7 linked regions of the Homo sapiens genome follow. The protein of the gene in region 5 purifies or fractionates together with the protein of the main gene of each other region. This does not show direct contact. Each region holds a gene or a part of one and is shown on either strand. Other genes may lie near its edges.

What was found.
Region 1: the proteins of EPB41 (region 5) and PNP purify together in Homo sapiens (co-immunoprecipitation; one large-scale study listed by IntAct). This does not show direct contact.
Region 2: the proteins of EPB41 (region 5) and PIN4 purify together in Homo sapiens (co-immunoprecipitation; one large-scale study listed by IntAct). This does not show direct contact.
Region 3: the proteins of EPB41 (region 5) and COPZ1 purify together in Homo sapiens (co-immunoprecipitation; one large-scale study listed by IntAct). This does not show direct contact.
Region 4: the proteins of EPB41 (region 5) and MYH1 purify together in Homo sapiens (co-immunoprecipitation; one large-scale study listed by IntAct). This does not show direct contact.
Region 6: the proteins of EPB41 (region 5) and DYNLRB1 purify together in Homo sapiens (co-immunoprecipitation; one large-scale study listed by IntAct). This does not show direct contact.
Region 7: the proteins of EPB41 (region 5) and GOT2 purify together in Homo sapiens (co-immunoprecipitation; one large-scale study listed by IntAct). This does not show direct contact.

The regions. Positions count from the first base shown.
Region 1 is NC_000014.9:20,474,998-20,477,589, reverse strand, and holds the end of PNP (purine nucleoside phosphorylase), read right to left. Parts: intron 2,529-2,592; coding exon 2,338-2,528; intron 1,207-2,337; coding exon 989-1,206; 3' UTR 501-988; downstream 1-500. UniProt on the Homo sapiens protein: Catalyzes the phosphorolytic breakdown of the N-glycosidic bond in the beta-(deoxy)ribonucleoside molecules, with the formation of the corresponding free purine bases and pentose-1-phosphate.
Region 2 is NC_000023.11:72,188,257-72,191,756, reverse strand, and holds part of PIN4 (peptidyl-prolyl cis-trans isomerase NIMA-interacting 4), read right to left. Parts: intron 1-3,500.
Region 3 is NC_000012.12:54,342,131-54,345,630, forward strand, and holds part of COPZ1 (coatomer subunit zeta-1), read left to right. Parts: intron 1-75; coding exon 76-157; intron 158-1,094; coding exon 1,095-1,186; intron 1,187-3,329; coding exon 3,330-3,385; intron 3,386-3,500. UniProt on the Homo sapiens protein: The coatomer is a cytosolic protein complex that binds to dilysine motifs and reversibly associates with Golgi non-clathrin-coated vesicles, which further mediate biosynthetic protein transport from the ER, via the Golgi up to the trans Golgi network.
Region 4 is NC_000017.11:10,494,543-10,498,042, reverse strand, and holds part of MYH1 (myosin-1), read left to right. Parts: intron 1-125; coding exon 126-309; intron 310-590; coding exon 591-756; intron 757-849; coding exon 850-974; intron 975-1,493; coding exon 1,494-1,802; intron 1,803-1,889; coding exon 1,890-2,093; intron 2,094-2,725; coding exon 2,726-2,851; intron 2,852-2,941; coding exon 2,942-3,112; intron 3,113-3,369; coding exon 3,370-3,474; intron 3,475-3,500. UniProt on the Homo sapiens protein: Required for normal hearing. It plays a role in cochlear amplification of auditory stimuli, likely through the positive regulation of prestin (SLC26A5) activity and outer hair cell (OHC) electromotility.
Region 5 is NC_000001.11:28,921,069-28,924,568, forward strand, and holds part of EPB41 (protein 4.1), read left to right. Parts: intron 1-3,500. UniProt on the Homo sapiens protein: Protein 4.1 is a major structural element of the erythrocyte membrane skeleton. It plays a key role in regulating membrane physical properties of mechanical stability and deformability by stabilizing spectrin-actin interaction. Recruits DLG1 to membranes.
Region 6 is NC_000020.11:34,536,922-34,540,421, reverse strand, and holds part of DYNLRB1 (dynein light chain roadblock-type 1), read right to left. Parts: intron 1-3,500. UniProt on the Homo sapiens protein: Acts as one of several non-catalytic accessory components of the cytoplasmic dynein 1 complex that are thought to be involved in linking dynein to cargos and to adapter proteins that regulate dynein function.
Region 7 is NC_000016.10:58,717,317-58,720,816, reverse strand, and holds part of GOT2 (aspartate aminotransferase, mitochondrial isoform 1 precursor), read left to right. Parts: intron 1-1,561; coding exon 1,562-1,621; intron 1,622-2,128; coding exon 2,129-2,290; intron 2,291-2,516; coding exon 2,517-2,621; intron 2,622-3,500. UniProt on the Homo sapiens protein: Catalyzes the irreversible transamination of the L-tryptophan metabolite L-kynurenine to form kynurenic acid (KA). As a member of the malate-aspartate shuttle, it has a key role in the intracellular NAD(H) redox balance.

The sequences.
Region 1 (2,592 bases), on a different chromosome or scaffold from region 5:
ATCCAGTCAACAGTGGAGTGGCTGGCAGCAGAGAAAAGTGTTTGCCACTGCCTTGTCAGCATGGAGTGAATGGAGAGTGTGGCTGCAGATGTTAGAGAAGAGTAGGAGAGAAAAGGCAAACAAGAGGAAATATAATTAGGGCTTTGGTAAGGAAGTGGGAACTAAGGAAGAGGCTAACCAGTGAACTAATTCAGATATGATCAAATAAACAGGAAATGAAACAATCAGAAGGCAAGGGAGAGAGGCAGGACCAGCCTGACAGAAGTGGCAATCAAGTGCCAGAAGTTAACTTTTCTTTACCATCTCATAACCTCTTTCCACCTCACCTTTCATCATTTTGCCCTTCTTCATCCTTTGCTGCCCTCACATACTATCTCATCTCAGTTCCTAACTGCTTGTCTGAGAAGCAGATAGTCACACAAGACATGCGATCTCACATCCTTTCATGTCAATCTTGGTCTGTGCCCCAGCCCCATACCAAGTTACACAAAAAAATGAAATTATTTCATCTTTCTCTTTATTCTGACAACATTATGACATTAAATAAAATCCAAGAGGTATTGGATTAGTCCTTGTTTGGTCTCTGGTGATTTAGATAAGGCAGAACTGAGCCCCTCGGAATGTATTATCTCAAAGAGCTAGTAGCAGCTGCTATGCAAAGTTCTAAGGCCCGAGTCAAATCCTGGGCATCTCCACAGATGTGTGGTAGGGCACGGGCTCCAGCTCTTGTGTAAGAAAGAACAGGAATGAGAACAGCTTTATTTTGTAGCGCCAAGGTCTCACTATGCTCACACCTGTAATCCCAGCTTTGAGAAGAGGATCTGGCACCAGAAGGGTCTGGTAGAAGAAAGTGGGAAAGGTGAAGGACAGGAATCTTTTCCTTTCTGCTACAACCTAAGGACAGAGGCACATGACTCCAGCAAGGGGCCAAAGAAGGTAGCAGCTACTTGGGTCTTGTGTGGGAGATGCCAGACGACTCCAAGGCAGGTCAACTGGCTTTGTCAGGGAGTGGAATGCTGGCCATAAGAATGGAGACAAACTGTTCCAATTTCTGTGCAGCTTGTTTGCCAGCTGCTAAGACTTCTTCATGGTTGGCCTTCTCCAGGCTTTCATAATCCATGATGACCTTGTTAGTGATGAGTGAGAAGCCAAAGACTCGAAGTCCACAGTGCCGTGCAACGATAACTTCTGGTACTGTACTCATGCCTGATAGTGAGAAAGATGGAAACCAACTGTCAGGATCCTCAAATAACTCTTTTCCTTGCCCTTTAGCCTCGCTTTCAACAAGAATTAAAAATCTCAAAAAACATCCAAAGATGGCCGGGTGCAGTGGTTCACACCTGTAATCCCAGTACATTGGGAGGCCAAGGCAGGAGGATGTCTTGAGCCCGGGAGTTTGAGACCAGCCTGGGCAACATAAAGAGACCTCGGCTCAAAAAATAAATAAAATTAGCCAGGTGTGGTAGTGTACGCCTGTGGTCCCCGTTACTCAGGAGGCTGAGGTGGGAGGATTGTTTGAGCCCAGGCAGTCAGAACTGTAGTGAGCTAGAGATGGTGCCACTGCACTCCAACCTTGGCAACAGAGCAAGGCCCCACCTAAAACAAATCCAAAGAAGCAGCTAAATTATCTTCTGTATTGCCTAAAATAAATACACATTTCTTAAAATTACCAATACAATCCTTCATTTCTATATTTGTGGCAATTTTGAACTCAATCCTAATGATAGAGTTCCATCTTCCAGCTAGAGGTACAGAAGGTGGCTATAGTGAATTTTTTAGAATTCTTAGAAACAGTCATCACATTGGCCAGGCACAGTGCGTCGCGCCTGTAATGCCAGCACTTTAGGAGGCCAAGATGGGCGGATTACCTGAGGTCGCGAGTTCAAGGACCAGCCTGGCCAACATGGTGAAACCTTGTCTCTACTAAAAATACAAAAATTAACCGGGCGTGGTGGCACACGTCTGTAATCCCAGCTACTCGGAAGGCTGAGGCATGAGAATTGCTTGAACCCGGGAGGCGGAGGTTGCAGTGAGCCGAGATCATGCCACTGCACTCCAGCCTGGGCAACACAGCGACATTCCGTCTCAAAAAACAGTCATCAAATCATGGATAGATCATTCATTAGCACTGCAGCTGTTAACCCCTTGGTGCTTCGTAGGGAGATTTGATGCTACACCAAATCTCACCAGTTTGTATTTCAATAAGTCAGTTTAATTCACCCTTCCCTGAAATCAGATCCTCTCAGTCCAATGAGGCCTGTTATTTCCTACTCCTTCCCCTTCCCATTTTGCTAAACCCCTCCCTCTTCAAGCTTCCAGCCAAATTCCCCTTCTCACCAACAGCGTCTGCTCCCAGCTTCTGCAGCACACGACATTCTGCCACAGTCTCAAAGCTGGGGCCTGCCACCATCACATAGGTGCCTTCCTGTAGCTCACGTTGCTCCCCCATTTGTTTCCAGGTACTGAGAGCCCTCTGCCTCATAGTCCGGTCGTAGGCATCAGACATGGCAGGGAAACGATCTCCAAACCTAGGACACAGGTTGAATTATCTCACATAAACGGAATTTTAAAAATTCTCCCACAGCTCCTAGA
Region 2 (3,500 bases), on a different chromosome or scaffold from region 5:
AGGGGGCTGAAAGCCAATGAGTTCCTGACAATGGGTCTGGTTTCCACTTTCTTGTTAAAATAATAAAAACATTTAAAAGTTGATGAGTACTTATCTCATTAAATCCTCACACTAACGCTGTGAGACTAGATGAGTGTTTCTTAACCCTGGCAGCATATTAGAATCACCTCCAGAAATTCTAGAAAAGTTTTTCGTTTTTGTTTTTTGAGATGGAGTCTCACTCTGTCGCCCAGGCTGGAGTGCAGTGGCGCAATCTCAGCTCACTGCAACCTCCGCCTCTCGGGTCCAAGTGATTCTCCTGCCTCAGCCTCCCGAGTAGCTGAGATTCCAGGCGCATGCCACCATGCCCAACTAATTTTTGTATTTTCAGTAGAGACAAGGTGTCACCATGTTGGCCAGGCTGGTCTCGAATTCCTGACCTCAAGTGATACACCCACCTCGGGCTCCCAAAGTGCTAGGATTACAAGCATGAGCCACAGAGCCCAGCCCTTCTAAAAAAGTTATCAAAGTCCAGGCCCCCCTCCAAGAGATTCTGATGCAGTTGGTCTGGGATGAGACCCTAGGCACTCGTATTTTTTTAGGCGAATCTGATGTACGTCTAGGGTTGAGAACCATGGAATGAAGTTCTCTGTTGACTGATGGGAGTGGGGTGGTGGATGGCTACAGGTGGGCGGTAAAGGATTGCTGAGCAGCACTGAGGGCCTAGGTAAAGTCAGAGACCAAGTATTAGTAGTCCCAATCCCCAAGGCTGTGTGACTTTCCAGTAGGGCCCAGCAGTTCTGGGGAGCTTTTTTTTTTTTTTTTGAGATGGAGTCTCGCTCTGTTGCCCAGGCTGGAGTGCAGTGGTGTGATCACGGCTCACTGCTACCTCTGTCTCCCAGGTTCAAGTGATTCTCCTGCCTCAGCCTCCCGAGTAGCTGGGATTATAGGCACCCGCCACCACACCCGACTAATTTTTGTATTTTTAGCAGAGACGGGGTTTTACCATGTTGGCCAGGCTGATCTTGGACTCTTGACCTCAGGTGATCCGCAAGCCTTGGCCTCCCAAAGTGCCAGGAGTACAGGCATGAGCCACCGGCGCCCGGCTGAATTTTTCTTTCTTAAGTAACTGTTTCAAATTTGAGCCAAGCTACTGAAATAAGTTCATCTATAAGCAAATATAATACTCATATTGGAATTATTAGTAAATACTTTATTTACATACTTATTAAAAATCAAGTATTAATATTTAAGTTGCCCCCAGCTAGACGTTTTCAAGGAAATCTTTTCTTTTCTTTTCTTTTCCTTCCTTTCTTTTTTATTGATGCATAGTAGATGTACAGTTTCAAGGTAATGCAATAATCTAATACATTCATATAATTGGTAAAGATCAAATCAGTATACTTGGAATATCCATCACCTTAAATATTTGTCTTTTCTTTATACTAGAACCACTCGAATTCTTCTCTTCTAACTATAGATCTAATTTTAAGTGCATAGAAAGTAGACCATTGGATTGATCCTGAGTAGCAGGGAGGTGGATGCAGGGAGGTGGCCAAAAGAAAAACTGGACCTCCTCAATCCAATGATCAAGCCCTTAGGCCTAATTTTGAGTGTGCAGGGGATAGGAAAACAAACATGAAGCCTAGGAGAAAGTGGGGAGATTAGGGTGGGCTTGAGGGCTTGGGGGTCTGTGAGGAGAAGAACAGAGGAACAGGATTGGCGGAGGCAGGAAGGGAAGGGGAAGGAGGGAAGCTGTGGTCAGTGGATGGGTCTCAGAATCTGCAGAGCTTATAGCGACAAAAGGGCAGGGTGTGGGCACAGGGGTGGGGTCTGAAGCAGAATGACAGAATGTGAAAGGAGCTGAACCCTAAAAGGCCAGAGGGTCCCAGGGTCCCTCACCGACTGGTGCCTTCAAAAAACACTTGAAACAACCCAGCTGTCCTTCAACAGGTGAATGGTTCGACATACTACAGCACTTCCACATCATGGGATACAGGTTGAATATCATTTATCCAAAATGCTTGGGACCAGAGTGTTTCGGATTTGGGAATATTTGCATTAAACTTACCAGTTGAGCATCCCTAATCTGAAAATTCAAAATCTGAAATGCTATAATGAGCATTTACTTTGAGTGTCATGTCAGCGCTCAAAAAGTTTCAGATCTTACAGCATTTTGTATTTTGTATTTTTGGATTAGGGATACTCAACTGGTACTATTTAGCAATACAGAGGAATAAACTATTGATAAACAAAACCACCTGAATGAAATCTCCAGCGAATTATACTGGGTGAATAAAACCAATCCCAAAAGGTTACATACTGTATTATTCCATTCATATAACATTCTTGACATTATAAAGTTACACAAATGGAGAACAGATAAGTTGCTGCCATGGGTTAAGAGGGCAGAGGTGGGGCAGGAGGGAAGCGGGTATAGTTATAAAAGGCCAAGAGGAGGGATCCTTGTAGTGGTAGGATTGTCTGTATCTTGACTACATCAATGTCAATATCCTGTTTGTGCTATTGTACTATAGTTTTGTTAGGTGTTACCATTGGGAGAAACAAAGGAATACGTATTATTTCTTTTCCTTTTTCTTTTTTTCTTTTTTAGAGACAAGGTCTCATTCTGTTGCCCAGGTTGGAGTGCAGTGGCGTGATCCTGACTCACTGCCGCCTCAAACTCCTGGGCTCAAACAATCCTCCTACCTCAGCCTCCCAAGTAGCTGGGACTACAGGCACACACGACCATGCCCAGCTAGATGTATTATTTCTTAAAACTGCATGTGAATCTATAATTATCTCAAAATAAAAGGCTTTATAAAAACAAATTTAACCCTAATCTACTTTCCTAGTGAATAACGTGCCACTCCTTTCCATATATCTCATGAGTGGCCACATTGAACTTATTTTTTTTCCAGAGAGGGTAAGGTGCCTCTTTAAAGCCACATGCACCAGGTGTGGTGGCTCATGCCCCTATAATCTTAACACTGTTGGAGGCTGAGGCGGGAGGATCGCTTGAGGCCAGGAGTTCAAGACCAGCCTGGGCAACATAGCGAGACTCCATCTCTACAAAGATAAAAACAACAAAACAAAGTTTTTAAAAAATTAGCTAAAGCCGCCAGGCACGGTGGCTCATGCCTGTAATCCCAGCACTTTGGGAGGCCGAGGCAGATGGATCACCTGAGGTCAGGAGTTCAAGACCAGCCTGGCCAACATGGTGAAACCTCATCTCTACTAAAAATACAAAAAACTAGCTGGGCGCGGTGGCGGGCACCTGTGATCCCAGATACTTGGGAGGCTGAGGCAGGACAATCGCTTGAACCTGGGAGGCGGAGGTCGCAGTGAGCCGAGATCGTGCCATTGCACTCCAGCCTGGACAACAAGAGTGAAACTCCGTCTCAAAAAAAAAAATAAAAAAAAGTAGCTAAAGCCATATGCAGTGCAACAGTCTCTTAGGTTAGATGCTTGTGAAAACATATTAGGTGAAAACTGCATATAGCCAAAATTACCCTAGAATA
Region 3 (3,500 bases), on a different chromosome or scaffold from region 5:
GGGCAAAACATAGTCACTAATCATTCTGGCTTCCAGCTCTAGTGACCCAACCCTGTCTTCTTTCCCTCTGACCAGTACTATGACGACACCTACCCCAGTGTCAAGGAGCAAAAGGCCTTTGAGAAGAACATTTTCAACAAGACCCATCGGACTGACAGTAGGTCATTTTCCTTTCACTACTACCCGTGCTGGGGGGAACCATGGTGGAAAGGGGGTGGTAACAGGGCTGCAGAGAAAGGATGAAATGACTCTGCCTTTTTCTTTTTTTTTCCTTCTTCCCCTTGTATAATAAACTCTTCAGAATGTAATGGGGAGGTGAGTGTACCTCACGCGGGAATACCATGCTGGAAGGTTGGCTGTTAGCTACCTGTCTAGTCCCTGGATTTATGAGCCTCACTTGACAAATTTAATTGCAGCTCTGCTTATTGTACCGCATCCATTAGGGCAGGTAAATGGAAGTCTGTAAAGGTGACCGCTCTGCATTTTCACCTCCGAAGGATCGACTAGTATCCTGTCTCATATACAAGTAGGGAAATAGGTATAGTGGGCAGGAACAGAGGATGGTGGTTACAGAAGATACATTTAGACTCCCCCAAGTTCATACTTCTCTTCTCCTGCCACCACCCAAAAAGTGCAGATCATCTTCTGGCTTTGGAAGTCATTACAGGCGGCCTCACCTTAGCCCAAAAGAGCTGGATACTAGGAATTCATGGTAACGCCTTCTTTTTTTTTTTTTTTTTTTTTGAGACAGAGTCTCTCTCTGTCACCCAGGCTGGAGTACAGTGGCGAGATCTCGGCTCCCTGCAACCTCCGCCTCCCAGGTTCAAGTGGTTCTCCCATCTCACCCTCCTGAGTAGCAGGGATTACAGGTGCACACCACCACGCCCGGCTAATTTTTGTATTTTTAGTAGAGACGGGGTTTCACTGTGTTGGCCAGGCTGGTCTTGAACTCCTGACCTTAGGTGATCCGCCAGGCTCGGCTTCCCAAGGTGCTGGGATTACAGGCATGAGCCACTGCGCCTGGCTGGTAACTCCTTCTTTCCTACTTCCTTATCTCAAGCCACCCACTATTTTTACTTTTTTTCCCCCACCAGGTGAAATTGCCCTCTTGGAAGGCCTGACAGTGGTATACAAAAGCAGTATAGATCTCTATTTCTATGTGATTGGCAGCTCCTATGAAAATGAGGTGAGAATCCCCACCCCTCTTTGCTATTTCTGATCCTACTTTCTAAACCACAGGCAGTACATAGCCACTGGTTTGGGGCCCTAATAGAGCCGTGTTCCTCTGGCTTCTGACCAAGCTAATGAAGTTGTCAGAGATCCCACCAGCCTCACAAACATGGCCCGGCAAATGAATCGCCTAGAAAGGAAGTTTTCCTAGATTAATCTTTTGCATCCATTAGGAAACATCATATATGTTTTAATACCTTTCCCTGAGTAGTGTTTTTTAAGATGGATTTCTGAGGTATGGTCAAGACTGCAGGGGGATACTTGCTTCTTCTATGAAGGGTCCATACCTGACTGAGTTTGAGCCAATTAGCTAACAACCTGGGTCATGTTGAAACCATACATTCTGAATGGATCACTGGAGAAGACCTTGGGTATAGTCCTAACCTGCTTCCTATATGCAGGAAAAGCTGTTTGCCTCAGATAGCAACTTCTAGGAGAATAGATAAATAAAAATAAGCCCCCAGATAATTTGAGGCAAAAGTGAAAGTTTGAGAAAGTCAACTCTTACTGAGCTCTTATTATTGGTATAAGTGCTTTGTAAAGTATATTGTTATTTAAACCTCATAGCACTTCTATGAGTTGTAGGCATTGGTGCCTTTGTTTTACAAATGAGGAAACCAAACCATGAAGAACTATATGAAATTACTTGTATGTGACCATTGAGAAAAGTACAAAAGTGGCAGTTATCTGATGTGGTTCAACCTAGTAACTTTCTCAGGGTCACACATGTAGAAAATGGCTCAGCTTGGATTCCAACCCATATCTGTCTGACTTAAAGTCCATGCTTTTTAAAAAATTTTGAGACATAGGCCGAACGTGGTGGCTCACACCTGTAATCCCAGCACTTTGGGAGGCCAAGGTGGGCGGATCACTTGAGGTCAGGAGTTCGCGACCAGGCTGGCCAACATGGCGAAATCCCATCTCTACTAAAAATACAGGCCAGGCATGGTGGCTCACACCTGTAATCCCAGCACTTTGGGAGGCCGAGGCAGGCGGATCACGAAGTCAGGAGATTGAGACCATCCTGGCTAACACAGTGAAACCCCATGTCTACTAAAAATGCAAAAAATTAGCTGGGCGTGGTGCGGGCACCTGTAGTCCCAGCTACTCGGGAGGTTGAGGCAGGAGAATGGCATGAACCTGGGAGGCGGAGGTTGCAGTGAGCCGAGATCATACCACTGCATTCCAGCCTGGGCAACAGAGCGAGACTCCGTCTCAAACAAACAAACAACAACAACAACAAAAATTAGCTGGGCGTGGTGGTGGGCGCCTGTAATCCCAGCTACTTGGGAGGCTGAGGCAAGAGAATTGCTTGAACCTGGGAGGTGGAGGTTGCAGTGAGCTGAGATTGCGCCATTGCACTCCAGCCTGGGTGACAGAGCCAGACTCTCAAAAAAAAAAAAAAAATTTGAGACAGGGTCTTGTTCTGTCTCCCAGGCTGGACTGCAGTGGTGCGATCTTGGCTCACTGCAACCTCTGGCTCCCAGGCTCAAGTGATTCTACCACCTTAGCCTCCCAAGTAGCTGGGACTGCAGGTGCCCACCACCATGCCTGGCTAATTTTTTTTTGTATTGTTTGTAGACAGGGTTTTGCCATGTTGCCCAGGCTGGTCTCAACTCCTGAGCTCAAGCAATCGGCCTGCTGCAGCCTCCGAAAGTGCTGGGATAGAGTCAGAGTCTAGACAGGGTCTAGACGTTACAGGTGTGACCCACTGTGCCCAGCCAATTAAAGTCCATGCTTTTTACACTAACTCTGAAGCCTTCCTCTGACCTCAGCTATTGCTTGGTTAGTAATTTCTCTACCTAAGACATCAGGTAACACATATACAGTTGGTGAAGACATTGTAGAGGACTGTGACAGGGAAGTTCTGTTTAAACTTTTGGCTAAAAGATGTTGAATTGTGGAATCATGTAGCAGAATTTATTTCTGTGAGAAATCACAGATCCTTTTCCTGTTGTGCTCTCACTTCCACTTTATGTTTTTGGTCCTTTGTGAAAGCCTGTGTCTTTTGATGTTTAATGAATTAGGAGGTTTTGTTTTTAGGTAGCAGCTTTCAGGGCCTTGAACCTTATCCTTCTGCCTCCTCTGTTTCCCAACAGCTGATGCTTATGGCTGTTCTGAACTGTCTCTTCGACTCATTGAGCCAGATGCTGAGGTGAGCAGGACATTCTTTTTTTTCCCCTCAAGTTATGATGGAAAGAGCAGGGCATTGTTGATTTCTTTTTGGGAGATAAAGTAACCATTCTTCAGGCCCAGGGATTGTAGGGGAT
Region 4 (3,500 bases), on a different chromosome or scaffold from region 5:
CTACAAAACAAGCTTGAGAAGCAAAGTATTAAAGAAGTCTGATTGTGGAATTCACTCTCTTGTACCCACTTTGAAACACCCAATTCAGTTGACAGCCATTCACTTTTATTGCCCATATTTCATAGGAAGAAGCTGGCTCAGCGTCTGCAGGATGCTGAGGAACATGTAGAAGCTGTGAATGCCAAATGTGCTTCCCTTGAGAAGACGAAGCAGAGGCTCCAGAATGAAGTTGAGGACCTCATGATTGATGTTGAGAGGACAAATGCTGCCTGTGCCGCCCTGGACAAAAAGCAAAGGAACTTTGATAAGGTATTCTCTCCAGTTTTTGCTTCAACTTTCAACACAGAATTAACAATAGCCTGCTACCTTCAGTGTGCCCAATTCAAACCATCTGAGGGCTGTTCTCAGTAGCTCTTAACCCATCAGCAGCTGTCTGTGGAGAGGGGAAGTGCTCCTATGGTTTCTATTCTTCTCATTCATAATTTTTTTTCAGTCCCAGAACACCTCAACTCTGAGAGGTGCTAGAATAGATGGTTTTTATCTCATCAAATTTTGTCCACTAAATTTCTTGTCCATTCCTTGACCTTCAGATCCTGGCAGAATGGAAACAGAAGTGTGAAGAAACTCATGCTGAACTTGAAGCTTCTCAAAAGGAATCCCGCTCACTCAGCACAGAACTATTTAAGATTAAGAATGCTTATGAGGAATCTTTAGACCAACTTGAAACCTTGAAACGGGAAAATAAGAATTTGCAACGTGAGAACATTTTACCTTTTCTTTAACAATAAAAGATTTGAAAGAATCTTTTCCAACTATAAACAAATTTCTATATTTTTTGTTCACCAACAGAGGAGATTTCTGATCTCACTGAACAGATTGCAGAAGGAGGAAAGCGCATCCATGAACTGGAAAAAATAAAGAAGCAAGTTGAGCAAGAAAAGTCTGAACTTCAGGCTGCCTTAGAGGAGGCAGAGGTAAGCATTTTATTGCATACTCTAAAACAATTAGAAGAGGAATTGGGGTCTATTAAATGTAAGGAATGGTGAATCAAGAGAAACGAAAAATAATTTTTGCTCCATGAACTAGGGATGAGAATGGAGAACTGATCATGCATACAACCAACATAACCATATGTCAGGAACTGTGCTACACACTGAGCAAACAAAGATGAATCAGTTAAAGGCCCTGCTTTCAAGGGCACAATCTACCTAGGGAGATAAAAGCATATAAAATCAACAATAACATTCAATAATTTGTAGAAATGTCTAAAACAACAAAATAAAAATGTATGATGGCAGCACAAAGGCAGACAGTGTGTGTGTTAGAGAATAGCAAGAAAATGCAAAGGCATGAAAATGACACTCTTGTTTAAATCTTACTACTACTTAGAAATCTATTTATAAATAAGGTTTCATGAATGATAAATCATTCTTATCTCTAGAATACTACACACTTCCATTACTCTACTAATGTCACCTCTTGCTGTCATTAAGGCATCTCTTGAACATGAAGAGGGAAAGATCCTGCGCATCCAGCTTGAGTTGAACCAAGTCAAGTCTGAGGTTGATAGGAAAATTGCTGAAAAAGATGAGGAAATTGACCAGATGAAGAGAAACCACATTAGAATCGTGGAGTCCATGCAGAGCACACTGGATGCTGAGATCAGGAGCAGGAATGATGCCATTAGGCTCAAGAAGAAGATGGAGGGAGACCTCAATGAAATGGAAATCCAGCTGAACCATGCCAACCGCATGGCTGCTGAGGCCCTGAGGAACTATAGGAACACCCAAGCCATCCTCAAGGTAAATATGTCCAACAGATGATCCCAGGACAATTGGGGTGCCTGCAACCCTGAATACATGGTGTCTCAATGACGGTTTGTTCCACAGGATACCCAGCTCCACCTGGATGATGCTCTCCGGAGCCAGGAGGACCTGAAGGAACAGCTGGCTATGGTGGAGCGCAGAGCCAACCTGCTGCAGGCTGAGATCGAGGAGCTGCGGGCCACTCTGGAACAGACAGAGAGGAGCAGGAAAATCGCAGAACAGGAGCTCCTGGATGCCAGTGAGCGTGTTCAGCTCCTGCACACCCAGGTGCATGTAATAATAGAATAGCAACAAATACAAGGGTATGAAAATGACATTCTTGCTGAAATCGTGGTACTATTAAGAAATCTATTTATAAGATTTCATGAAGGATAAAGTTTAAAATATTTTATTTTTTTGATTATCTATATTCTTATCTGAACTATAACATCCATAGTTGATTTTTTTTTTTTTTTTGAGACGGAGTCTCGCTCTGTCGCTCAGGCTGGAGTGCAGTGGCGCAACCTCGGCTCGCTGCAAGCTCCACCTCCCGGGCTCACGCCATTCTCCTGCCTCAGCCTCCGGAGTACCTGGGACTACAGGCGCCCGCCACCACGCCCGGCTAATTTTTTGTATTTTTAGTGGAGACGGGGTTTCACCGTGTTAGCCAGGATGGTCTTGATCTCCTGATCTCGTAATCCACCCGCCTCGGCCTCCCAAAGTGCTGGGATTACAAGCATGAGCCACCGCGCCCGGCCAGTTGATTGTCTTTTAAACATATGTCAACTCAGATAATTTATGAAACAAGGAGGAATATTAATGAATTCATTTAGTTAATTAGTTTATGGTTCATTAGAACATGAGGTTTCCTAATTTTTCTCTCATGTGCCTAATATTTCTAAATTTCACATTTTAAACAGAACACCAGCCTGATCAACACCAAGAAGAAGCTGGAGACAGACATTTCCCAAATCCAGGGAGAGATGGAAGACATCATCCAGGAAGCCCGCAATGCAGAAGAGAAGGCCAAGAAGGCCATCACTGATGTGAGTGAAGGGTAACACAGTGGTGGTCAAACTTAAATCTTAATGTGCTGTCTTAGCTGTCTTAACCCATTCTGTTTTACTGCTAATTAGGCTGCCATGATGGCTGAGGAGCTGAAGAAGGAACAGGACACCAGCGCCCATCTGGAGCGGATGAAGAAGAACCTGGAACAGACGGTGAAGGACCTGCAGCATCGTCTGGATGAGGCTGAGCAGCTGGCCCTGAAGGGTGGGAAGAAGCAGATCCAGAAACTGGAGGCCAGGGTGGGTCTCCTAATCAGCATGTATTTCTATCTCATTCCAATCCAACACACGATTCTGAATACCTAGCACTGCTAGATGATGTGGGGCATACTGAGATGAGGGAGAGCTATTCCCTCATGCCCAAAAGCTCATAATAAGGAAAACTGAACTAGGGCATTAAAAACTACATATAAAGCAGAGTAGAAGAAGTATGTGGGTCATGTGAAGAAGTAGAAATTCGTCAAATGAATGTCCTTAAAATGTCCATCTTCTTGTAGGTTCGTGAACTTGAAGGTGAAGTTGAAAGTGAACAGAAGCGCAATGTTGAAGCTGTCAAGGGTCTACGCAAACATGAGAGAAAAGTGAAGGAACTCACTTACCAAGTAAGGAAAATGGCCTGTCTAGGTTT
Region 5 (3,500 bases):
AATAGAGTTGTTTTGAATTGGTTAAATTTAAGCCTGTAACCCATACGTGTAATAGAAATGTATATTTTTGGTGATTTATGAATACATAGTATTAGGCCAAGGTTTAGTTGTGATTGATATACAGCTATTAGTACTTACATATACTCTTAAGTAATCCTATTAAAATCATTTTAACACAATGGGATCTTAATGGCATATCTTTAAACCTATCTTATAAAGAAATGCTGCTTTAACTTAGATGCCAAGCACATATTTTAATTTACCAATTAGAAGTTCTATATGTATTCAAGTGAAGAGTGTTTCACCTTAATAATACATTTCATACAGATTGTTGAAATTCATCCCATTCCCCCTTCCCTCCCCAGTTTTTGGCCATATGGACACAGGCAGGACTCTCAGGAGTGCCAAGGATTTAAGCCCTCAAATTTTACCTGCCTACCATTTCAGCATGCGATAGGGACACATGGAAGGCAGCTTAAAGTAAAGGCTTTAAAAAATTTTTTTTGCTACCACCCACTTGCTGTTTCTTGCCCTTTTCTCTTTTTTTTAATGATTCAGAGGATCGACACTGTTGCCAGCTTACTACCTGCAGTCTTTCCAGTCTTGATGGTATTACGTAATTATATAAACCTTTTGCATGGTATCATATGATATTGTATATTTGTCTTCCTACACATGTGTCTTTAGAGTAATTTCTTTCCATCTGGTGTTGAAAATGAGCTCTTTGTGAGGTTATTTTTAAATCTTCAAGCTTTCTGGCATCCTCAACACTTGAAATAACACAATTGCTTTTGGAGGCAAGAAAATCCACATAGTATACTTTGTGGTTTTTCCAGTGAAAATGTAAATAGTATTTTATTTATGAAATTTTATATATATATATATATATATATACACTTTTTTTTTGTTTTTTTTTTTTGAGACGGAGTCTCTCTCTGTCACCCAGGCTGGAGTGCAATGGCATGATCTTGGCTCACTGCAACCTCTGCCTCCCAGGTTGAAGCGATTCTCCTGCCTCAGCCTCCCAAGTAGCTGGCATTACAGGCACGTGCCACCACGCCTGGCTAATTTTTGTATTTTTAGTAGACACGGGGTTTCACCGTGTTGGTTAGACTGGTTTCGAACTCCTGACCTCCTGGTCCGCCCGCCTTGGCCTCCCAAAGTGCTCAGATCACAGGCATGAACCACCGCACCTGGCCTATAAAATTATATTTTATATTTAGATAGTCTTGAGATAATTGTGTTAGGTTGGAAATAGTTGTTGCCAAGTAAATAAAGTAAAGGAGAGCTACTTAAGGGAAAGGAGACCAAGAATAAGAAGCCTGGTAGAGGAAAGAGGTTTTAAAGATATCTTCTTCTCTGAAGATTTATTGTTATCTTTTTATCCTCTGTCTCATTCTGTTGCCCAGGCTGGAGTGCAGTGGGGCAATCATGGCTTACTCTAACCTTGAACTCCCGGGCACAAGCAGTCCTCCCACCTGAGCCTCCTGAGTAGCTGGGACTACAGGTGCATGCCACCGTGCCCCGCCAGTTTTAAAATTTTTTCTTAGAGACAGGATTTTTTTTTTTTTTTTTTCGAGATTGAGTCTCACTCTGTTGCTCAGGCTGTAGTGCAGTGGCGCGATCTCGGCTCACTGCAACCTCTGCCTCCCGGGTTCAAGCAATTCTTCTGCCTCAGCCTCCCAAGTACCTGGGACTATAGGTGTGTGCTACCATGCCCGGCTAATTTTTGTATTTTTTAGTAGAGTCGGGGTTTCACCATATTGGCCAGGCTGGTCTCAAACTCCTGACCTCATGATCCGCCTGCCTCGGCCTCCCAAAGTGCTGGAATTACAGGTGTGAGCCATTGTGCCCAGGCTGAGATGATCTTATGATATTGCCCAGCCTGGTCTCAAGAGATCCTCCTGACTTGGCCTCCCAAAGTGTTGGGATTATAGGTGTGAGCCAACACACTCAGCCGTGATGCACTGTTTGATTCTGATAATCAGGTATGTGTAATTAGCCTTAAACCTTTTTCTTCCTTCTTTCCTTTCTTTTCTTTTCTTTTTTTTTTTTTTTTTTTGAGATGGAGTCTCACTCTGTCACCCAGGCTGGAGTGCAGTGATGGGATCTCAGCTCCCGGATTCAAGCGATTCTCCTGCCTCAGCCTCCCAAGTAGCTGGGATTACAGGCGTGTGCCACCACACCTGGCTAATTTTTGTATTTTAGTAGAGACAGGGTTTCACTATGTTGGTCAGGCTGGTCTCGAACTCCTGACCTCAGGTAATCTACCCGCCTCGGCCTCCCAAAGTGCTGGGATTAGAGGTGTGAGCCACTGCGCTTGGCAACCTTTTTATTTCTTAACGGTAGATTGATATATCCTCTAGCTTACTAAGTAACCTTTGAATTTTTATTATTTCTTTAATTGTAATATAAAAAGCTGATCTTTTATTAAGTGCCATTCCGTCTCCTAAAGATGATGCCTATAATGATTAAATAGTAAAGGTCAGTGTCATCTACTTAGCAAGATTTACCCAGTAAGTCTTTTTTTCTCCAGATGCTATTTTTGTTGACTTATCCTTGCTAGTTGTATTATCTCTAATATGACCATTAATGGACACTGGTTAACAAGATATGTTCAATATTTAATGTATTCTCTTTGGTATTTTGTAAGATGGAAAAGACTAGCATTGGGATGAATAATTGCATAATGATCATAGAATCATATTTAAATAAATATACCAAAGAATATATAACTAAAGGGCAAGTTTTTTTGTTTTATGTTTTTAAATTTTTATCATGCGTACTGTGGTAGGCAGCCTTTATTATGGCCCCCAATTATCCCTCCCTCCTGGTATGCATACCCTTAGTGTAATTTCCTCCCCTTGAGTGGGGGCTATTGAATAGAATACAGCAAAAGTGATGGGATGTCACTTCTAAGATTAGGTTATAAAATACTGTGGCTTCTCTCTTGGGATTCTGGCTTTCTCCCTCTCCCTGGGACCACTAGCTACCATATCCTGAGAACACTCAGGCAGTCTGTAGTGATGTCCATGTGGTTAAAAACGAGGTCTGTCAGTAAACTTGGATGCAGATCTTCGGTGTGAGTGATCTTGGAAGCAGATTCTCCAGGCAGAGTTGAGCCTAGAGGTGAATGCAAATGCAGTAGACAGCTTTACTACAACTTCATGAAAGCCCCTGGCCGGGTGCGTGGCTCATGCCTGTAATCCCAACACTTTGGGAGGCCAAGGTGGGTGGATCACCTGAGGTCAGGAACTCGAGACCTGCCTTGCCAACATGGCGAAACCCCGTCTCTACTAAAAATAGAAGAATTACCTGGGTGTGGTGGTGTGCACCTGTAGTCCCAGCTACTTGGGAGGTTGAGGCAGGATAATCGCTTGATCCTGAGAGGTGGCGGTTGTAGTGAGCTGAGATCGTGCCACTGCACTCCAGCTCTGGGTGACAGAGCGAGACTACATCTCAAAAAAAAAATAAAAAAGACCCCAAGCCAGAGTCACCTA
Region 6 (3,500 bases), on a different chromosome or scaffold from region 5:
AAGATAAACCTTTAAGATTCCTGCAGGGGCTCCTGCAAGAGGGGCCTCCCCATACCGGGCAGCGGGCACTCTACAGTGTGTCGTCTCTTCTAATCCTCCCCACGACAGTGGCAGCAGGTAGGCAGGATTCTCACCCCTGTTTTCCAGGTGGGGGGACTCCAGTTCAAAGAGCTCCAATGAATTGCCTAAGGCCATGGTTGTCAAGCTAGCAGGCATCCCAACCACCTGGAGGGCTCTACGCCCAGAACCATCATTTAGTGGGGCTGGGGCAAAGCCCAAGAGTTTGCATTTCTCTAACAAGTTCCCAGGTGATGCTGATGTTGTAGGCTGTGGGAGGACCACTGGCTTAAGGTTACCCAGCTACTTAGTGTCAAAGATGGAATTCCGACATACTTCACTGGACTTGGGTAATGTCATTTTCTTTTTTCTCTCTCTCTTTTTTTCCCCTCCGCGAGACAGAGCAAGAGCTCTGTCACCCAGGCTGAGTACAGTGGTGCGATCATGACTCGCTGCAGCCTTGACCTCCTGGGCTCAGGTGATCCTCCCGCCTCAGCCTCCCATGTAGCTGGGACTACAGGCACACCCCACCAAACCTGGGTAAATTTTTAAAAAGTTTTTTGTAGAAGGTCAGGCGTGGTGGCTCACGTAGCACTTTGGGAGGCCAAGGTGGGCAGATCACTTGAGGTCAGGAATTCAAGACCAGCCTGGCCAACATGGTGAAACCCCATCTCTACTAAAAATACAAAAATTAGCCAGGCTTGGTGGCAGGTGCCTGTAATCCCAGCTACTTGGGAGGCTGAGGCAGGAGATCTGCCTGAACTTGGGAGGCAGAAGTTGCAGATCGCCTCACTGCACTCCAGCCTGGGTGATAAAGTGAGACTCCATTAAGAAAAAAAAAAAGTTTTGTACAGATGGGGTCTCACTATGTTGCCCAAGCTGGTTGCAAACTCCTGGGCTCGAGTGATCCTCCTGTCTCAGCCTCCCAAAGTGTTGGGATTATAGGTGTGAGCAACCACACCCAGCCAGTTAATGTCAATTTCTGTCACAAACTCAATTTGTTGGCTTTCCAGAACCTTCTGAATAAGAAAATTTCAAAATGGGACAAAGCAGCCTGGATTCCAGCTCCAGGGATCTGGCCCTGTAAGGAGGAATGTCCACCATTAAATCACAGCAAGTCCAAGTCCTTGGAGGTGAGCCTGAGTGCCTCCCGTTTCACTGAAGAGGTAACTGGAGAAGTGGTATTGTTGCATTTAGGGCTTGATGATTTGGAGTAAAAGACACTGATGTTACCGATTGTGCCTATTTTTATCAGTGGCTTGTTAATTATTTGTTTTCATTAGTGATTTTTATATATGCAGATTTACCCACTTAATCAAACTGCAAACATTGATCAAGGCTTCTTTGTGTCCAGGTCTGGGCCACCCACTTCTCACACGGCACCTCAGTGAATCCTCGAGTCACTCTGAGAACACGGAGCCTCAGAGAGTTAAAGGGCTTGCCCAATCCAGGGTAAATCCACAGGTGGAGTGGGGACAGGGACCTGGGTTTGACCCCATACTCTGAACTGCCCTGGTCTGCTGCCCCCTGCTGAGCATGAGCGAAATGGCAGGACCTCAGCCAAGTCACTTTGTGGCTGTTCAGAGCCAAGCCTAAAGCTTGGTTCTTCCCACGAAGATGGGCTGTTGCAACAGGGAAGAAACAGAAATGAAGTGACTAACAGTTTCATGGCTAACCAATCTGCATACATAAAAATCACTAATGAAAACAGAAATAATTAACAAGCCACTGATAAAAATAGGCACAATCGGTAACATCAGTGTCTTTTACTCCAAATCATCAAGCCCTAAATGCAACAATACCACTTCAGGTGCTTTGTGAGAGGTAGTGTGTGTTGAAGGTTGTGTAGGCTGAGTTAGTTACCTCAGCTTTAATACTAGTGAAGTTAATAAGTGAAAACTAGAAGTCTGTTTTTTTTGTTTTGTTTTTTGAGACTGGGTCTCGCTGTTGCCCAGGCTGGAGTGCAGTGGCGTGATCATGGCTCACTGCAGCCTCAACTGCCCAGGCTCAAGCGATCCTCCTGCCTCAGCCTCCCGAGTAGCTGGGAATACTGGTGCCACCATGTCCAGCTAACAAAAGTTTGTGTTAAAATGTCTTGGCCGGGCATGGTGGCTCACGCATATAATCCCAGCACTTTGGGAGGCTGAGGTGGGAGAATCGCTTGAGCCTAGGAGTTTGACACCAGCCTGGGCAACATAGTGAAACCCTGTCTCTACCAAAAAAAAAAAAAAAAAAAAAAATGCTGGGTGTGGCGACACATGCCTGTGGTCCCAGCAGTATACTAGGGAGGCTGAGGCTGCAGAGAGCCATGATCGCACCACTGCACTCCAGCCTGGGCAACAGAGCTAGACCCTGTCTCAAAAAAAAAAAAAAAAAAAAGCCTGTTCACGTGGGCGGTTCTGGGCCAGGGTGGGGTGAATGTGGCACACATGTGGAGAGCCACACTGTCTGGAACACCTGCTGCTGTCTGCAGCCTGGGAAGCAGTACCTCAGCTGGATGGGGTCAGGTCAGGCAGGTGGGAAGGCATGGATCTCCCTCCCGGGCCAGGCTGCTCCAGGCTGCCCACGATGTGTAGGGTGCTAACTACAGTCTCAAACGGGCACTTCCAGCAGCAGCCAGGCCTGCTCTACGCCTGTGGCCACCCCTGGGTCCTGTGTTCTGTAGCCATCCTGAGGCAATTCAGCGCCAGGGCCTCCTAGGCTCTGCGTGGTGGCTCCTGACCACAGGAGTTCTGGCACCAAAACCCAATTATTTTTTCTTGGCCACATAAAAGTGGGTATGTCAAAGTGTCAAATCACTGGTTTTCATCCTAAAACTATGCCCCACAGACATCCCTGACCCCGTCCCCACTGCTGACCCCACTTCTGACCCATATCAGTGGGGTGTCAGCAGTGGAGGGAGGTTTACAGAGTCATTCATTTATTTAATCAATGGATATTTGCTAGATGCTTACTATGTGCTTACAAGCCCCTGCCCTCATAGAACTTACTCTCAAGTGGAGTAGATGGCCTTAAAAATGCAGGTAAGCATTTGGTGACGAGGAAGGACTTGAGTGGCAGCAGTGAGGCTGAGCCAAAGAAGCATGCTCTGTAAGACAAGCTCAGCGCGCCACCGTCCTCCAGCACAGCGCCGCATGTGTGTGGGAGAGAGACAGTGTGACTTGAGAGCACGGGCGCCCCCTGCAGTGCTGCCAAGGTGAGGGACTGGCCACCTCATCCTCCTCCACTGACAAGGTTGTGGGATCTCCAGGCCTGTGAACCCCAAGGAGAACCCCCTACTTGGGAGCTGCCCATTCTGGACTCAAGCACCAACCACAGTCATGGGCTCTGAATGCCTGTGGGTCTTCAGGGCCAAATTGGAGACGCTGCCGCTGCCAAGTTGAGACCTGAATGGCCAGGAGCTTTCAGATGACACTGTCCTTCCAGAGGAGACATTCTCAGGA
Region 7 (3,500 bases), on a different chromosome or scaffold from region 5:
GTCAGGAGTTCGAGACCAGCCTGACCAATATGGTGAGACCCGCCCCCCCGTCTCTACTAAAAATACAAAAATTAGCCAGGTGTGGTGGTGCACGCCTGTAGTCTCAGCTACTGGGGAGGCTGACATGGGAGGAATCCTGGAACCCAGAAGGTGGAGGTTGCAGTGAGCCAAGTTTATGCCATTGCATTCTAGCCTGGGTGACAGAGCACGAACCTATCTCAAAAAAAAAAAAAAAAAATTGTTGTGCCTTTGTGAATCGTAGTATCATCGGACCTACAGTGAGGTTTTTATTTCCATCATGCCAAAGCTTGCAGGACAAACTATTTAAAATAATTTTTTAGTTGGGTTTTTCCCTCTTTAATCTACTACCACCCCAGTCCAGAAAAATACATTTGTGCTTTGTAGAGCCTTGTACTTCTACAACACCTTTAAAAACAACAAACAAAAACCTCTTAAACCTATGGTAATTTCTTGTTTGTCCCTTAAAGTTGACCAATTTGAATAAGGAGATTCACCTTAGGCATCTTCCTATTACCCAAAACATGAATATTTTCAGATTATGAAAACACATAGAAGGGGACCTCTTAGAAAACCTTTATTTATTTATTTATTTAGAGATGGAATTTCGCTCTTGTTGCCCAGGCTGGAGTGCAATAGCACGATCTCAGCTCAACGCAACCTCCGCCTCCTGGGTTCAAGCAATTCTCCCGCCTCAGCCTTCCTGAGTAGCTGGGATTACAGGCATGCGCCAACACACCTGGCTAATTTTGTATTTTTAGTTGAGACAGGGTTTTTCCATGTTGGTCAGGCTGATCTCGAACTCCTGACCTCAGGTGATACGTCCACCTCGGCCTCCCAAAGTGCTGGGATTACAGGCATAAGCCACTGCGCCCGGCCAGAAAACCTTTAAAATGTTGTAATGTTATCCTTGTATACTTGTTGACTTGCTTTTCAAGGAACTTTGATGTTTAGAGAGTCATTCTACTTTGTATAATTCTAAAGTAATGTTTTAATGTAGTGACTGTTCTCAGTGTCTTTTTATTTTATTTATTTATTTTTTTTGAGACAGAGTCTCACTCTTTTGCCCATGCTAGAATGCAATGGCACAGTCTCGGCTCACTGCATCCTCCACTTCGCAGGTTCAAGCAATTCTCATGCCTCAGCCTTTCCAGTAGCTGGGATTACAGGCATGCGCCACCATGCCCAGCTAATTTTTGTTTTAGTAGAGACAGGGTCTCGCCATGTTGGCCAGGCTGGTCTCGAACTCCTGACCTCAGGTGATCCACCCGCCTTGGCCTCCTAAAGTTCTGGGATTACAGGCATGAGCCACCGCACCCAGCCTCTCAGTGTCTTTTTATATCTTTTATATAATTCACCCCTTTTTCATATTGAGGAGGAATTTTTGTGTTCTGAAAGTTTCCCGTGTAACATGAAATGATACTGACAGGCCATAAAGAATGAGCTTCTGAAGTATGAAAGGTCCTGGACAAAGCAGTGGCCCTGGGTCTGGGCCTGTATAGAGAGTGTTGCACATCACTGACCGTGGGTATCTCTCCTTCAGTTTGTCACTGTGCAGACCATTTCTGGAACTGGAGCCTTAAGGATCGGAGCCAGTTTTCTGGTGAGTCTGGAAGCTTCTTCAGGAAAGAATTATAAATTCCAGATGACAGGGCTTCCTGTTGTGTGTGTATTTGACTGTTGATGCAGAAGTAGATTTCTTCTTTCCGTGAAGTTTGCAGATGTCCTATTCTCATGAAAAAATGAAAGGACTTTGAAGAAATTACAGGAAAGATATATTAGTGATGATGATAAATTCAGTTCACTAGGAACTTACTATTTACTAGGGAGCTTTTGCATTTTAACTTGTTTAATCCCTATGAGAGAGGTACAATTAACCCCCTTTACAAGTGAAGAAAGCAAGACCCAGAAAGGTCCTTGGCTACATGGCCAGTATAACTGTCAGAGACTATTCCAACCCAGGCAGTCTTACTGCTGAGTCAATACTGCTTCTCAACCATAGAGAGAAACTGGGTTTCAGCAGAGAAAAATGTTCTCTCAATAAAACACATCAACATTTTTTTGCCTCTCCTTTGTTCATTTTTCTGTTTCCTTTCGTCCCATCTTTTAGCAAAGATTTTTTAAGTTCAGCCGAGATGTCTTTCTGCCCAAACCAACCTGGGGAAACCACACACCCATCTTCAGGGATGCTGGCATGCAGCTACAAGGTTATCGGTATTATGACCCCAAGACTTGCGGTTTTGACTTCACAGGCGCTGTGGAGGATATTTCAGTAAGTGTGGCTTTCAGGGTGAGAGAGGTGAATAAAACTCCTTGCTTGCGGACATTTGATGTCTCCCACCATGTCCCAATATCTGAGTTAAAATACTGGGGAAGAGCTGATTCCCAGGGTTCTGGTTACCTTTGTTACTTATCAAATGATGACGATCCTGTGGCATTTCAGATAAACCATTTCCTTTAAAGCTGCAAAGTCGTCTCTTGGCTGTTTTTCTCTTTAGAAAATACCAGAGCAGAGTGTTCTTCTTCTGCATGCCTGCGCCCACAATCCCACGGGAGTGGACCCGCGTCCGGAACAGTGGAAGGAAATAGCAACAGTGGTGAAGGTGAGGACGATGAACTCACTGGCGACAGTTCTGTGTTTAGTAACCAGCTTTGGAGGCTTAATTTGGCAATGTCTCAACAGAGAGTCTTAACCTCGAACCTGCGTGAAATGTCCACACAGGTGGATAAGCTGCCAGAAAAGGGCTCCCCATTTGCGTGATTAGCAGTTCTGGGATTGATGACGCATGAGTATTTGAAAGTAATTTTTTTTGGCTGGGCGCGGTGGCTCACGCCTGTAATCCCAGCACTTTGGGAGGTCGAGGCAGGTGGATCACCTGAGGTCAGTTCGAGACCAGCCTGGCCAACATGGTGAAACCCCGTCTCTACTAAAACTACAAAATTAGCTGGGCGTAGTGGCCCATGCCTGTAATCCTAGCTACTTGGGAGGCTGAGGCAGGAGAATCACTTGAACCCAGGAGGTGGAGATTGTGGTGAGCCGAGATTGTGCCACTGCACTCCAGCCTGGGCAACAAGAGCAAAACTCTGTCTCTAAAAAAGAAAAAAAGAAAATAATTTTTTTCCTCATCCTGGATGTAGGGAACTCTGATAAAACCTGTCCACTGGCCCCAGGATGTCTGCTGTTGATGCCTATATTCGCCCTGGTCAGTGGTTGCTTATTGATCTTTTTAAACACTTTTTCATGTCCTCTCCTTTGCAGCATTGCCATGATCACTCTCAAAGTGTAGCCAGCTGTCAGAGAAGACACTAGTCAAAATTCCTAGGGAGGAAAATGTTATTCCTGTTGTCTCATGTCCCTGTTTTCCCTTTTCACTCCTTTTCATTTCCCTTTCTTTTCTCTCTCTCTCTTTTTTTTTCTTTTGAGACAGAGTCTCACTCTGTCGCCTTAAGCCAGAACGCAGTGGCACAGTCACAGCTCACAG